Regions from separate parts of the Homo sapiens genome. Here region 2 is linked to region 1. A link means that fine-mapping ties the variant in region 1 to the expression of a gene that starts in the linked region. Tissue or cell type: whole blood. Region 1 holds a variant in brackets; the other region holds the start of a gene. All regions are shown on one strand. Distances are between the middles of the regions.

What was found. PIP is the estimated chance that this variant, and not a neighbour inherited with it, causes the effect.
Region 2: it holds the start of CPD, and the variant in region 1 is fine-mapped to the expression of CPD in whole blood (TOPMed, PIP above 0.99).

The regions. Positions count from the first base shown.
Region 1 is chr17:30,223,254-30,231,360 of GRCh38, reverse strand. All of the region lies in intron 1 of SLC6A4 (solute carrier family 6 member 4), which reads left to right. Among named protein-coding and RNA genes, the nearest start is that of SLC6A4, 8.4 kb to the left of the region's middle. RefSeq lists a silencer at 5,264-5,464. The variant A/T (reference allele first, on the strand shown) is at 3,697.
Region 2 is chr17:30,374,987-30,383,093 of GRCh38, reverse strand. CPD (carboxypeptidase D) reads right to left here and starts at 4,167. Exons shown (of 21, transcript NM_001304.5): 1 at 3,368-4,167. The coding sequence starts at 4,113. RefSeq lists silencers at 3,692-3,821, 4,122-4,361 and enhancers at 3,339-4,266, 4,412-4,581, 5,852-5,901, 6,152-6,441.

The DNA.
Region 1 (8,107 bases):
TCTGTATGTATACCTACAGATATATATAGTGTGTATATATATATCTGTAGGTATACATACAGGTATATATATACTATATATATAGGTTCAACTAATATATATAGTTGAACCTTTGAGAGTTTGCAGACTTCCAGATACTTCTTCCTTAAATACTTCAACACAGATTTCCAACAAACAAGGACCTTCTTGTACGTAACCACAGCGCCATTTTCATGCTGGGGAAACTGGAGATAGATACAATACTATTATCGCACATACAGCTCATATTCCCATTTCCCCCGCTGTCTCAATGATGTCCTTTTTAGCATACAGTGTTACTCTGTGAGACTGTAAACTAGGGGTCAGAAAGTTTTTCTTGCTCTCATCTCAGTGCATATCTGAGAACTAGACTGGTGCAATGATGTGTAAGGATGAACTGATTTTTCATGAGTGTCTCCAACTGTGTGACTCACACTAAAGCACATCTCAGAAATTGTTGACCTAAGAGTATAGGCACCTTTGAGCAGCAACAGCCAAACTCCAAACACCTTGTGGCTGAAGAGGTGGTTGCACGTGTCCTCCGCGCCCCCTCTCCACCTGGATGCACCCGTCTCCTCCAGCAGCCTCACCTCACCTGACCTCACCTCTCCTTCTCCCCTCCATGCCCCACCCAGAGAAATGGGCCAGTTTCCCCTCTCTTTTCTCTTCTCCACTCCCATTTTATTTTGTAGTTCCACTTCAAACCCCCTTTTCCCCACTTCCCTCTTCCGCCTTGCTCAGCAGCCACAGGTGAATCCACCCTTATTTCATAGCACCCTCTCCCTGGGGTTGTTTTTTCCTCTCTTCTCTCTGTTTTGGGTCCCTTTGTGGACCCAATCATGTCTGTTTTACACAAAGGTAATCTTAGTAACATACCTGTATAAAGGAAAAGAAAAGCTGTGTGTGGACATGTTCCCATGTGTTCTATCTCGATTTTTACTTATTGCATAAATTGTATTTATCACAACAGTAAAGGAGTGTTTGGAAGGTGAAGTGACACTCCTAATCCTGATTAATCTAACACATCATCTGTTTTGAGTTTCTCAAGTCTCTTTCCCAGCCTCGTCCACATTTAAATATACTATGGTAACAGAGTAAAAGCAGTTTTGTTTTCTGCAAAAAGTTGTAAGTTGTGAAATTATGTGTCACAAGCAATTCATGTCACCAACTTCTTCTTCTTCCTCTTCCTCTTCCTCCTCCTCCTCCTCCTCCTCCTCCTCTTCCTCTTCCTCTTCCTCTTCCTCCTCTTCTTCTTCTTCTTCTTCTTCTTCTTCTTCTTCTTCTTCTTCTTCTTCTTTCTTCTTTTTCTTCTTCTTCTTTTTTGAGATGGAGTTTCGCTCCTGTTGTCCAGGCTGGAGTGCAATGGCCCGATCTCAGCTCACCACAACCTCTGCCTCCTGGGTTCAAGCTATTCTCCTGCCTCAGCCTCTAAAAGGCTGGTATTACAGGCATGCGCCACCATGCCTGGCTAATTTTTGTATTTTTAGTAGAGACAGGGTTTCTCCATGTTGATCAGGCTGGTCTCGAACTCTGACCTCAGGTGATCCGCCCACCTTGGCCTCCCAAAGTGCTGGGATTACAGGCATGTGACACTGCGCCCAGCCCATGTCATCAACTTCTAAAGAACTTGGACCAGGCGCAGTGGCTCATGCTGTAATCTCAGCACTTTGGGAGGCTGAGGCAGGAGGATCGCTGGAGTCCAGGAGTTCAAGACCAGCCTGGGCAACATAGCGAGATCTCATCTCTACTGTGTATTTTAAAATTGAACAACAAACAAAACTAAAGACCTCAAAAGTGCCTAAAAGACACCTCCGTGGAATCTGTACAAGGATCTCCCTGCTCCTTGTTCTTCTTTCCTTAAATTTAGTTTTCCTTAAGAACCAAAAAGAAGGTTAAAATAAAGAAAGAACTTCGAATCAGTCTCATTGTCAGCCCCCTCCCCACCCCTAAGCCGTCGTGTAGCACTTAACAACGCTGTGTTCTACAGCTTTCGTTTCAGATGTTTTAGTTTATCACATTTATTTCTGTGGGTTAGGAAATATATTCTAAGTTCCAAACCACCAGCTCACAGATGAACATTTGGAGCCCAGACCGCTGATGGGTGTGCCTGCCAGTACTTGTTTCAAAGTCTGAAAGCCCATCCCGGGCTCTTTAATCCTGGGCATGTCAGTCTCTTCCTGTCCATAGTCCATGAAAATGACTGTTAAGGCAGCCCTCCTCCTCTGCCCACAAGATGCACAGCCAATCTTCCCGATGGGTGAGGCAGGGAGGGACAGGGCCCCTTAGAATAGAACCCTGATCCCATTTGACTTAACTCCAGGGAGGAGAGAAAGAGCAGCACCTCACATGGAGCTCAGATCTGTTGGCACCCTCGCCCAGTCAGGAAACCCAAAACAAGCCCTCCATGCTGAGAGCTGTACAGGGCGTGCTCCAGTCTGCAAGTATTTGGACTCAGGGACGTGTAGCCATAGCCCCTGCTTCCAGGGGCACACGAAGCAAATGTATATAAAAGGATAACTAATGATGCCTGGTAATCAATGGCGAGTGACAAATGAGAATTGAGTAGAAAGAGTGTATCTTGGGCTGGAGTGCTGAGAGGAGGTGGATAGAAGCTTATGCCAGGCCTTGGAGGGTGCAGGATAATTAGAGGAAGGGAAGCTACAGGTGGGGACGCACACGGCACTGTTGGTGCCTACTGGCCCCTGAATAACCTGCGGTATTTGTTAAAAACTGCAGATCCCTGAGTGCCCACGTGGATCTCTTGAATTAGAATCTCTGGGAGAGCAGCCCAGGAGTCTGTTTCCCAGGTGACCCCAAGCACTGATTGAGAGCAGCAAGCATGACCCAGTGAGGCCCGTGCTGGGAGCCACAGATCACTTAAGTCCCAAGTCTTGTGGGCCTCAGTTTCCCTGCTAGGGTATGAAGTAGAAAGGCACAATGGGTTGCGGATGTATGGTGGTGATAGTGACATCAACTCACTGTCATTTATTGATGCTTCCCTGTGCTAGACACTGAGATAAGCATGTGTCATACTTTAATTCCCACGACAGCCTTTAGGAAGTAGCGGTTTTAACAGTCTGCTTTTACACAGGAGGAAATGGAAGCTAAGAGAGGTTAAGTGACCTACTCAAAGTCACACAGCCATTAAGTGGTGGACCAGGGATTCCAGTGCAGACCTGAAACAGAAAGGAGAGCTATGGGTTGTGAACAGAGGAACTAATGAAAGATGACTCTGGAAGGAAGTTAGTCTGGGCTTGGCTGTTTATATTCACTGGAGGAGGGCTGTTCACATCTGCTATGCTAAATTCATTTCTTTCTAGTAAAGTCAAAATAAATAATCCAGTATCCTTTTGGCCAGCCTCTCAGGGGGACCTTGACCCCATCACAAGGGGCATATCCTCTAGATTTTATACTCTGTGTAGAGAGAAGCCCAGGGCTATCCTCTCCCAGGCAGGGAAAGTTCTGGACAGAAATTCTTTTTCTTTCTCATGATAACTGGCCCAAATGGCCCTGAGGATTTTATCCTATTTAATTCCTCTCCAAAAAATTAAACCAGGCTGGGTGCAGTGGATCATGCCTGTAATCCCAGCACTTTGGGAGGCCAAGGCGGGAGGATTGCTCATAGGCCAGGAGTTCAAGACCAACCTGGGCAACATGGTGAAACCCCATCTCTGAAAA[A/T]AATACAAAAAATTAGCTGGGTGTGGTGGCACACACCTGTAATCTCAGCTACTCGGGAGCCTGAGGTGGGAGGATTCCTTGAGCCCGGGAGGTTGAGGCTGCAGAGAGCCATGATCATGCCACTGCACTCCAGCCTGGATGACAGTGCAAGACTCTGTCTCTTAAAAAAACAACACACACACACACACAAACACACACACAAAGGAACAGAAAAAACACTAAACTGACTCTGTCATATGAGGAATCCTTTGGATAAGGAGATGGCTGTGATAGTGGAGTTCATTTCTACCCTTTTTGTCCAAAAAAAAAACAAGCAGATTTTCTCTATTCTCTTCATTTCTATCATGAAATCTCTTCAATTCATTGGAAAGGCAAGGCAGGAGTCCCTATGGCTTCCGACCTGTGCCCCCATGACCCTGCACACTTCGGGAACACAGCAGTGCCTTCAGCAGATGCAAACGTGAGCCCCCATTTTACACTGCAGAGCCTGCAAGGAAGGATCAGCCAACAGCCAAGGTCCTGTGAGAGAAACTGTGCAATAGCAGCAAAGGAAGACTTAAAGCCTGGGGGCAACTGTGGTGCAAAACATGTGAGCTATCTAAACACGCCGCGGCGAGCCAGCGGCAGCCTCTGTTCACCACGGGATGTGTGGCAGCACCAGCCTCTCCAGAAGCATCGTGTTTTTCCTAGCAGTTGGTTTTCTTTTTCAGATTTTAGGCTTGGCCTGTGGACTCCATGCAGGCAGGACTGTGCCTGCCTTGTTTCTTTTTTCTTTCTTTTTCTTTTTTTTTTGAGACAGAGTCTCACTCTATCGCCCAGGCTGGAGCGCAGTTTGGCTGACTGTAACCTCTGCCTCCCAGGTTCAGGCGATTCTCATGCATCAGTCTTCTGAGTAGCTGGGATTACAGACATGCACCACCACGCCCGGCTCATTTTTTGTATTTTTATTTTTATTTATTTATTTGAGACAGAGTTTCACTCTTGTCACTCAGGCTGAAGTGTAGTGGCTCAATCTCAGCTCACTGCAACCTCCGCTTCCTGGGTTCAGGCAATTCTCCTGCCTCAGCCTCACAAGTAGCTGAGATTACAGGCACCCGCCACCACACCCAGCTACTTTTTGTATTTTTAGTAGAGACAGGATTTCACCATGCTGGCCACGCTGGTCTCAAACTCCTGACCTCAGGTGATCCGCCCGCCTTGGCTTCCCAAAGTGCTGGGATTACAGGCGTGAGCCAGCTGGCCCGGCTTGCCTGCCTTGTTTCTGAGGAGCCGAGCACATGTGGGCCTACGCACATCTTTGCTGAGGGAGTGCTTCTCCATGAAGAAGGCCAGATTCCATGTTTACTGCTTCGGGCGGCACCAGCGTTCCATAATTCCCATCACTCTTGGGAGATGCCCTGGGAACTTCAGCCTCCCTCTGAATAGAGGATACGAACTGCCAGTTGGCTCTATGACCTGTAACTAATCCTATCTCAACGTTAAACCCACAGTTCATTTGTTTTTGTTTGTTTTGAGAAAGAAAGTTGAGTTTCCTGAGAAATGAACTCACTTTGATCTTGACACATGAAGTCAAAGTTCAACATTTCTGTAGTGTCTTTCTGCTTAGAAGGCACTGATAGGCATCAAGTAGATGGAGCGTCACAGGCATTTCCAAAGGGCTGGGTGTTTATGACCAATCGGGATAATTACATGCTTGTTCAGGTACGGGTTGCTCCTGGCTATAGAGACAAAGTGTGTGGAAAGAGGAATGGAGATTCGATCAGAAGTTTAAATAGAAACAGTCCTTTTTTACTTGGAGTCAGGGATTGGGGGAATGGAGTGCATTAGCTTCAGGAGAGTTAAGAGAAAGTCAACCACTCCCATTGGCTGGTCAACTGCACCCCTCATGTGCAGAGACCTAGGGGGACGAAGCTTCTGTCTGCCAGCTGTCATTCCACAGCAGAGGTGGGGTCCACGGCACCACCCTCAGCCTGTCACCAGCTCAGCCTGGAACAACAGCACACATCCAAGATGCAAAGGAAGGCTTCCTTCTGGGGCTTTTTCTGGACATGGAGAAACTCAAAGACTGCCTGGAGAAGGTCACAGCTGTAATATTGACCTCGTTTGCAATCTTTCCACCCAGCAGGATAAAAATACCTTTTAAAAAAAGAAAGCTTAGAAGAGGGCATTCTCAGAAACCAACCTTCTTAACAACTCACACTTCTCTATTCCTGGGCCAGCTTGTTTTCAGCCATTGTTATGTGCAAGTCTTGATAGAAAAAGCCAGCCAGGGCTCTGCAGAATCAGAAAAAATAGGAAGAGAGTCTGGGGCTCCACAGGCAGGAGCTTGCAGGCAGAAAGGGCCCCGGGCACATGGCATCTTCTCCTGGCAGACCCGATTAGTCACCGAGAGGAGTTTTCCTCTACCTGGCAGAGGCAGAGGAGTAAGTTAAGAAAAGGAGATGTGTGTCTCCTCTGAGTGGCTGTAACTTTGTGTTTGCACCCCAGATTCTATGATGAGGGTGGGGGTTCAGTAGGAGAACCCCAGAAAGCACAGCTGGATAGAGAGAGACAGCCTGTGGGGAGAGGCTGCCCGGTCATGAGTTGTCTGAGGGATGCTCTGGGTTTTCTTGCACTGGGGCCATTTCAGCCTGTTGATGTAAAATTTTTTAATTAAAAAATTAAGAAGAACTAGGGGATATTTCAGGAAACAAGACCTCTGTAATGGCTCAGAACACAAATAGAAACAGCGTATTACTCTTCCAGGAGCTGCTTACCATAGTTGCCAGGAATTCAGGACTGGATGCCTTCGGGGCTGAACCCCTGAGGACTCCTGAGAACACACGTTGCCCTCAAAAATCTACCTACCTGCACACATTTTCTACCCTCTCTGCAGGACGCCTCAAGGAAGAAAGTAAACAAAATCCAGAACAAATCATTTGGCCCCTGAGGCAGGAGGGTAACTGCTCACTGCTGCTGCTAAATGTCTATTTCCTCTCCCCAAAGTATTGCTTCTGAGATGGACCGCATTTCCCTTCCGTAGACCCTCTGGGCCTGGGTAGAGAGGCCAGGGAACGCTTGGGTGATGCAATTGGAGCTTCTATTTAAGTGAGAGGAAAGTGGCAGTACAGAAAATAGAAGAGGTTCTTGCAGAAAATTGTGGGGCCAGGCCAGGCATGGTGTCTCACACCTGTGATCTCAGCTCTTTGGGAGGCCAAGGCGGGTGGATCATGTGAGGTCAGGAGTTCAAGACCATCCTGGCCAACATAGTGAAACCCCATCTCTACTAAAAATATAAAAATTAGCCGGGCATGGTGGAGCACGCCTGTAGTCCCAGCTACTCGGAGGCTGAGGCACAAGAATCGCTTGAACCCGGGAGGCAGAGGTTGCAGTGAGCCAAAATTGTGCCACTGCACACCAGCCTGGGCAACAGAGCAAGACTGTTTCAAAAAAAAAAAAACAAAACTGTGGGGCCAGTGGGAGGAAGAGCAAGGGAAGGAGCAGCTCTGTCAACTCGGTGCCCTCCAGCCGCACAGGGAAAAGCTCTTCCTCCCTGCCATTTGGCCTTCAAGTTCGTCAGTTGTTTAACGTACAAAACATGTCATTGATATAGGCCGGAGGGAAGTACAGAGGCCTTTTTAAACAACACAACCACTGACTACCAAGTTCAGGTTTAATTTAGCTGAATATTTAAATATGTTGACATCTCATCATGTAATAAAATAATAATATCCCTTGGCCTGGTAAATGGTTACCTATGGTGGGTGAGAGGATGTGTGGTTATTTTAAAAGCCTATCAAGCCTAGTTGAGGGCCGAAGGAAGGGGGAAGTGGGGGGAGGCCAAGGCCAGGCAGTAGCATAAATGGTGAGCAGGGTGAGGTTATGGAGACCGCTCTTGTCAGAATTCATATCCTTCTGAGTGGTGTTTGCATTCTTGAGCCTGGGGTGGGTGGCGGAGGGCCCAACAAGTGCGGTACAGCCCAAGACGTCTACCTCCCCTTACACACACACAGCCCCTAGCTACATGAAGCTGATTTATCTCTTGTTGCTGTAGATATTTTTGGCAACAATCGATCCCTTTAAAATTTTTATTTTCCACTTTACAGAAAAAATGCAGCAAACGCCAAACCCTAGTGACTGACATTGCCTGGTGTTCATGTCTAATCCTTGCTCATGTTTATAGCCATAGTCATTCTTGTGAAGCTACTATTTTGTGTCCTGATTTTTCACTTACTATGTTTTTGTCTTCACATGTGTAGGTAGCTAAGTTGCAGTCACCAAAAACCCCAAATAGGTAGGAGACATCCATGCGCCATTTCTATTAGCCAGTTCCTAGCCATCCTCCTAACTGTTGGATCTGGAGGGTTAGCCTCAGATCATTGCAGTTATAAACAGTCCATCCCTGGCTATCTTTTCTAGAAGGGTCCAGTGT
Region 2 (8,107 bases), 150 kb before region 1:
CTAACCACCTCTCCCCTATAGCTAAGGTATTAACAATTTACTCTCTGGTTTGTAATTCTAAAACAATTTTTAAGTATTTTTCCCCCACTGACTCTGGGAAAGTTATAAGAAGGCTGGGGCAGGTCAGGTAATCCATTCGGCAACAAACATTTCTTGAGTGTCAACTATTTGCCAAATGACGTTTCAGGGACAGATACATCCCAAAGGACATTCCAGGGATAGATACATCTGTGAGCGAAACAAACAAACAAATACCCTCTGGGCATTCATATTCTAGTAAAATAAAATGGATAATTAAATATTCTAAATAAGTAAAGCATGCTACTTTAATTACACATGTTAAGTAAAACTTTAAAATCCAAGATTCTCTACAAAATGCTGTTTCTCATTTTGTTCAACATTTCTTCCAACACTTCTCAGAAATATTGTCAAAATGGCCTAATCAAATACTTTTGAACAATGAAATATTTGCAATCTACTTGAGTAATAAAATTCACTTCGATTTTCCTTACTGTAATTACACAGTTTTGAAAGTACCAGTGTCATTCTTACAATGAAGATTTCAAGAGAAAGTGACTACAATGGCTGTAAGATTATGCTTTGAGTTTTTGTCAAATCAACTTTGCAAATCAACTCCAATCTTATTTGACAGGTACTTTATGGTTTCCATTCAAATCAATTCTCTGAAATGTTTCTCATACTTGACTTCAGTATCACATATCATTCCTTGCATAAGATTTAAAGTAGCTGGTAAATATATTAGAGATATTACAAATGAGTTTATAAATATTAAACAGTTAATCTCTAAATTAACTCTATTACGCTATCCAGGTAACCCTGTAGATAACTTGAAAAAAATTAAGATAACTTGATATCTGACAAACTAAATTTCAAAGATTCAGACAATCATAGATATGTATACATAAGCCCCCAAAAAAATCATCTGCACCCACTCTCAACACTGTAATAATGCTTTTCACAAACACATTCAAATATCATTTATATGCTAATTACCTATGAAAATTTAAGCAGGTATATTCACTTAAAGAAGCATAGCGGTCAACTATAAAAAAATAGGAGTCAACTATAAAATCTTCATTTGAATGATAAAGTTAATTTTTTTATATATTTTCTTAAGTATTTGTCTCAACATCCATTGGATGAAGTATAAAGTGAAACAAAGAAAATAAACTTCATTTTCCCAAGCTGGAGGAAATTAAGCCTTAAAATTTTACATATTCGAAATAACAACAAAAATCTAATTCGAATATAGCTGGGTGAATAGGATATCAAGAAATTACTCAAATGGTTTACCTCACAAAATACACTGAAAAAGGTAGTTTTCCCATACAGACTAATGTTTGAGTATTTAAAAATATCCCATCCATAAAGTTGACACTATATTTAGGCATCAATATCAAATTGTGTGTGTGCTTGTGTTTTTAATTTTATTCACATATCAGTGTCCTTTGTTATTGGTTAATAGCACAGAGTACGCATTTTGAGTGAATTCTTGAAGACTGAGTTAGGATGGATGTACTCTTTACCATATATGATCACCTACTTTCCCTTTTGATTAATGAGAGTTACATATTTGAAGAACAGATATGATTAGGGTAGTCCACAGCCACAGACCAAAATGACTCTGTATAGCCTCAAGGCGACTTGCACCAAGAAAAAGCTTATTTTCATATTTGGTCACAGCACAACTAATACTGAAAAGAAAAATCCAGGCACAGAATTTACATCCCTGCAAGGATCACAGCATTTTAAAGGTGCAAGGACAGAGCATTTTAAACATTTAAGCAATGCAAACGGTGCATTTGTTGTATCATCTCCAAAAAGCCCTGGCCATCACAGCTCTGTCAATAAGTGTATGTCAAAGTCATATTTCTTACGCAGATGTTCAGAGGTGATGACACGATCGTATTTAAAAGAAAAAAAAATCCTCCCAGAAAGTCTATGTGAAATTATATATCTACAAGAGAGCTTATCAAGAGGAGTAAAGTAAAAGATAGAAGACGAAAAGACTCAGGAACTGTCCTAACACTCAAGAATTTTCTAGATCTTCTATATATGACTGAAATCTTGTAGAAGAAATGATTCCAAGTCCCGCAGGGAAACTTCTTTATCTTAGCAGTCCCTCAGAAATCTTCTTTTAATCCAGATGGAATGATCAGTTATTGCTTCAAAAGCCTTATGAAGATACAAAAATGGGGAAAAGCTGATGCTAGAAAAGGGGAAGAGATGCCTGCTCACTTCAGACACTATGCCATCTGGAGTGAGTTCCCTCTTATTTTATTCCTCTCCTTTTTGCTGAAAATCCTGCCCATCTCTGGAGATAGCTCAAGCTCTACCTCTTCCACAGAGATGGTCCGTGTTATTGCAGCCCACACACATCTTGCCAGTGGGAACAATTCCTGTAAAGTTTAACTGGGTACACCAACATACCTCATAAATATTTATAACATTCTCTTGTTTTATACTAATTTCTTGAGGTCCTCCTTCTTCTACTTTGTAATTTTTTAAACCTCATGCAATGCTTAATAACACTTAAAGTGTGTATTAGAAGTGTGACCATTAGCCATTCTGCCCAGGCTAATAAGGTGCACAAATGACATCACAAACCCTTCAGAGTCTAAAATGAAGCGGCTCACAGATCTGTGCAAGTTCTCCAGCTAAGTCCATATCTTCTTAAGCTGAGTCAGAGGTAAAAATTGGAGAAAAATCAGCTTCTGTCAAATAGGCAAGGGGAAGATCCTGGGAATATCATCTGCCATTTTTGGGCTCCAGTGTCCCTCCGTGGCTAAGAGGACTATCGGGAATCAGATTGCCTAATTCTAAGTCCCAGCCACACTCCTATGTAAATCAGTTAACCAATCTGACCCTCAATTTCCCCGTATGCAAAACTGATGGTGTCTATGACATCAGGTTGTGGCCAAAATAAAGTGAGATACTGCAGTCACAGAAAAAATTAGCACAGCGCCTATAACATTAGGCACTTTTGATATAAGATAACAACATTGACAGCTTATCTATAAAATGTGTGAGCTGACCTAGGTTATCCTTAAGATCTCTTCTCGCTCATATTCTATGCCCCTGTAAGAATAGGGACCAGAAATGTCAGAAAGGAGTGTCCCCTCCAGCCATCCCTTGAACAAATGACAGCCTCTAGGAGGCAATTCTTTGATGATTAGCAGGACGGGAGGCTACGCGGCCTGGGCCCTGTCCCCGTTACAGGGTGTCTCCCTTCACCTTCACCACCGCCACCCCTTATGCCAGCATTGTCTGAGCGCCTACTGGGTGCCGGAACCAGCCTCGGCCCTTGGAGGCTCACACGGACGGGGAGGGGGCAGGCAACACTCACTTGTTCCTGCGGATCCACTCGATGAGGGCGCGCACCTCGGGCACCTCGTCCAGGGCGGGGGGTTCGCCGGTGCTAAACTGGTCGGGAAAGCTTCGGTTGAGGTCGCGGCCGCGACTATTGTCGCGGCCGCTGGCCCCGGACGGGCCGCCGTCGCCGAAGCCACAGTCGCCCTCGCGGGCACGCTCGAAGCCATCGGGGTTGAGGCTGGGCAGCAGGTACACGTCGGTGGTGTTGAGCAGGCGGACCAGGCGCGGGTCCCCGCGGCGGTAGCCGGCCGCCAGCTCGCGGGCCAAGTAGATCAACACCTGGCGCGACACGGTCTCGTCGCCATGCATGTTGCCCACCAGCTTCACCTGGGGCCGGCCGGGCAGCAGCGGCCCCGCAGCGTCGGGCCCGGCAGCGTCAGGCCCCGCGTCGCCCTCAGGGATTAGCGACCCCAGGCCGGCGGTGAGGCGAAGCACCCACAGCGGCCGGCCTTCCACCGAGCGGCCGATGCTAAAGAGGCGGGCCAGGCCGGGGAGGCCCGCGGCCGCCGCCTCCCTCAGCGCCGACTCCAACTCCTCTTCGTGGTAGTAGCGGTCGAACTGGCCCTCGGCCGCCTCGGCGCCCGCGCTCGTAGTTGTGGTAGTCGCCTCCGCCTTCTTGATGTGAGCCGCCCGGGCCGAGCTCCCCAGCAGCAGCAGGCACATGAGCAACAGGAGCCGCCCTAGCCGCCAAGGCGGCCGCTCGTCCCGGCCGCTCGCCATCTTCCAGCAGCGCCGCTAACCCCGGCTCCGCTCCCGCGGCTCAGCGCTCCGGGCGGCGGGGGCCCGCCGGATCCCCTCCTCGCCTAGCAACCCCATCCCGCCCTCTGGCCGCAGCCAATCGCGGACGGGCCTGGTGGAGCGTCACCACCAGGGGGCGGGGCTTCCCTTAAAGCAGCCGATTCCCTCTGGGCGGGCCTGCCCTCCTCCCGTCCGGGACGAGTTTGGTCACTCTCTTCCTTCGCCAAGGTTCTTCTTCTCTTCTCCTCCTCCTTGTTTCGTCTTCTGCGTGTGCTCCGCTTCTCGCTTAGTCTCTTCTTTATGGCTTCTCCCCTAAATTATCACCCATTTTTCTCTGAGAACTCCTGCTAGTTCTCTTCCCATCTTTGTTGCTGCCTTTCTCAGCTGCGCTTTAATGCTTAGAACCGAGAATGGAAAGAATCAAAAGGTTCGAAAGAATCATAAGACTAGAAAAAATCAATAGGTTCGAAAGAATCTTCGTTCGGACACTCAAAGCCTTAGCCCAGTCTCCTAGGCGCCTTGTCTCCGCATCCACCCCGCCTCCGCTGGAGCCCCGCTGTCCGCGTGCGGTTGCACGGGACGCCTCGTGGGGAGGAAGGCTCGCACCTCACTAGGCGGTGCATTCATTTTTAGAGTTGCTTTCTGGAAAGGTGTCTCTTTTATGCCTAGCGGAAATGTGCTACGTAGTAGGCTCCCTTTGTGTTAATGTTGTCTATTTCTTAGGCGTCACCCCACGTTGTTTTACTGCAAATAGGTCCCTGTGTGTGCTGGCCTCGACCCTCATTAGGCAGATTTCATTTCACAGCTCACCGGCCCACTTCTCCCACCTCATCGGAGCAAGTTGTATATTTAACTGTGCCCTGGAATGACATATTTTAAAACAGCAGGTTTGACATTTCTGGAAACACTTGCTTGGCATTCCTGAACTCCTCAGTGTCAGCCAAAGATGGCAATTACAGCGTTTCATCAAGTCTAGAGAAGAGGTCTTTTAAATCACCTTTTATAGGCTTTAGTTTCTTTAGCTTGAAGAAACCCAAAACTATCCCTTAATCGAATGCGAAATTCTACCCATCTAACAACATAATCGCAATAACCGGCATTACCTTCTTTCAGAGCCAGCTATTTCAGGGCCCCTTCCCTGAACTATGACTGAACCCTACTTTAATAGAGTTCATTCATTCGTCAAGTATTTATTGAGCAACTTTTATGTCAAAGCTAGATGCTGGGAAACAATTCATTCTTCTGCCCAGTCAAGAGATTCAGTGTAGTTTGTGATAAATGCTACAACAGAGGGGGTACAGGTGAGGGAAATATCTGAACTTGAGGAGGAGGAAAGGAGGAGAGAAACCATGGAGGATGGGAAGGATCCCAGGCAGGAGGAGAAGCAAGCAAAGAAAGCCGCAGGATTTGAGAACAAATGCCTTGTGTTCTGGGAATTGCATGCAGGGTCAGGATTACTGGTGTGAAGGGGCTCACAGGCCAGTCTTCAGGGAGCACATTTGATCTGGAAGGCCATGGAGAACCACAGACGGGTTTTAAGCTAGTTTAGAAAAATTCCTCTGACAGTAACACGGAAAATTGAATGGGAGGCCTAAGACTTGAGGCTGAGAGACCTGGAAGGAAGCTGCAATCCAGGAAGACATGATGAGACTCTGAATGAGGGCAGTGCCAGTGGAGGTGGAAAGAAGGAAATGGATCTGAAAGACCTTCGGAAAGGAAAGTGGACAGGATCTGGAGACAAAGAGGATTGTAGGCTGACTTCAAGTTACAGCCTAAGCAACTTGCAGGTATTCACTGAGGTACAGGCCAGGAGAAAGCACAGGTTTAGGTGAAGATGATTAATTTAGTATTCTGCCATCAGAGCGAGCACCGTCACTCCGGTCCTGTGAATGGCTCTTCTCCATGCCCCATTTGATCTAGTCTACATTATGCACAGCAGCTGCAACTCATCAGAAACAAAGCCACAACTCTGTACAGAGAGACCGCCCACCACCTCCCGGGAGTGCTCAACTATTACACCATGCACTTTTACAGTAATCCAAGTCAAAGAAGCCCCAGAGGACATGTTAACTTCTAATCAAATATTTCCTTTTCTACCACGTTCACTCTCCTTTGAAACCTCTTCCAGCCCCTTCACTCCTGCAGCCTCGCCTAGAGAGGCAGCCTGAAATGTAAATAAACAAGCATGAGGGTGGTGAAATAATATGGGAATGTAACTTGAGCCGGTGTCCTCTCAGAAATCCCCAGGCCTTCCGTGGGCCTCTTTCAGGTCTGCAGCCTTCTTCCTTAGCAGGTACACAGTTGCTTATGGTTATAAGTGAAACCCAAAGCTCTGGACCTCAGTCACTTTTGTGTTTACCTACAGGTTTGTGTTTACCTACAGCTGAATACCTCCAATTGTGTCTGAGAAGTCTTGAACCTTATGACAGGTGTTTCTTTCCTCTTTCCCCAAGGAAAAGGTGTGGCCTTACAAATGGAAGGGACTTGGGAAAGGCTTGAAGGTAAAAAGGCTTCCTGTTCACAGAAGCAGAGTGGCAATGACTTGGATTTTTTTTTTTAATTTTTGTATTTGATACATGATAATTGTACATATTTATGGGATACATTTGATATTTTGATACATGCATACAATATATTATGATCAAACCAGGACATTCTGGATAGCCATCACCTCATTTAGCTCAAAGAGATTTGAAATGTTTCTAGCACCAAGAAATGACAAAGAATTGACGTGGATTTTTTAAAAACAGGGCAAAAGCTTTTAGATGACCAGCCTGATTCAAGAACCATTTTCTTCACAAGATTCGTAGGTAATTAAAGCATAGCATAGACCGGGAACTTGTAAGTGTCTCATTGTCCAGCACAAACACCTGCAGATTTACAAATTCAATTTGACAAATGTTTGTGGAGCACCCAATCTGGCGAAAGGTCTGTTGTGCCAGGTACAGGAGGATTGGAAAATGAATGAAGGGGATCTCTCCCCTCCCAGAGGACAGAATCTAGGAAGGGACACAGAACATAGACACAACACAGGACTGGATGTGTCTGCTGGACAAGAGTTACATAACAGGCACTGTGCAAAACCCTTTACATTGGTTGACTCATTTCATCTTCACAACAGTCCTATGAGGCTGGTGCTATTATCATTCCCATTTCAAAGATAAAGAGAGGAGACATGAGGTCACACAGCTGGCAAGCCACAGATCCAAGACTCAAACCTGGGGAGTGTGACTTCAGAGTCTGTGTGCTTAAATTCTGTAATAAAACTGTTTCTATATAGTAAGCTTAAAAAAACAAAAAACAAAAACCTGTTTTTGGAACACACAAAAGCCATTATAATGAAGAGTCACCTCCCTCGGTGGCTCAAGCCTGTAATCCCAGCACTTTGGGAGGCCGAGGCGGGCAGGTCACCTGAGGTCAGGAGTTCAAGACCAGCCCGGTCAACATGGTGAAACCCCGTCTCTACTAAAAATACAAAATAAATAAATAAAAGAAATTAAAAATAAAAATAATGAAGAGTCAGAGAAAACGTCACCAATACTGCTTGATCATGCTCTTCAACAGCAGAACCAAGTTCAAATCCTGGATCAGTCCCTTTTCAGCCATTGTAACCAGGGCAAGTTACTTCATTTCTCTGAAAATTAAAAGAAATAATACATACATAACATTTAATATAATACTTGGCATATAACAAGCGTTCAGAAATCACCGTTATTTCTATTGTTTTTAATAATAGAAATTCTCAAATGGTAAAAATGGAGAAAAGAGCACTCCAGGCAGAGAGACCAGCAAGGATAGATGCACAGAGAGGGATTTCGTGACTGGTGGCTGGAATACAAGATGTGTTAGGAAGAGCAGCAGAAGCCATGCCTGCAAAGACTAGAAGTAGATGAAGGCTTTGAATACCACACTAATGGGGTTTTGCTTTATTCCAAAGCAAATGGAAAACTTACAGAGCTGTTTGTGAGGAGGAATG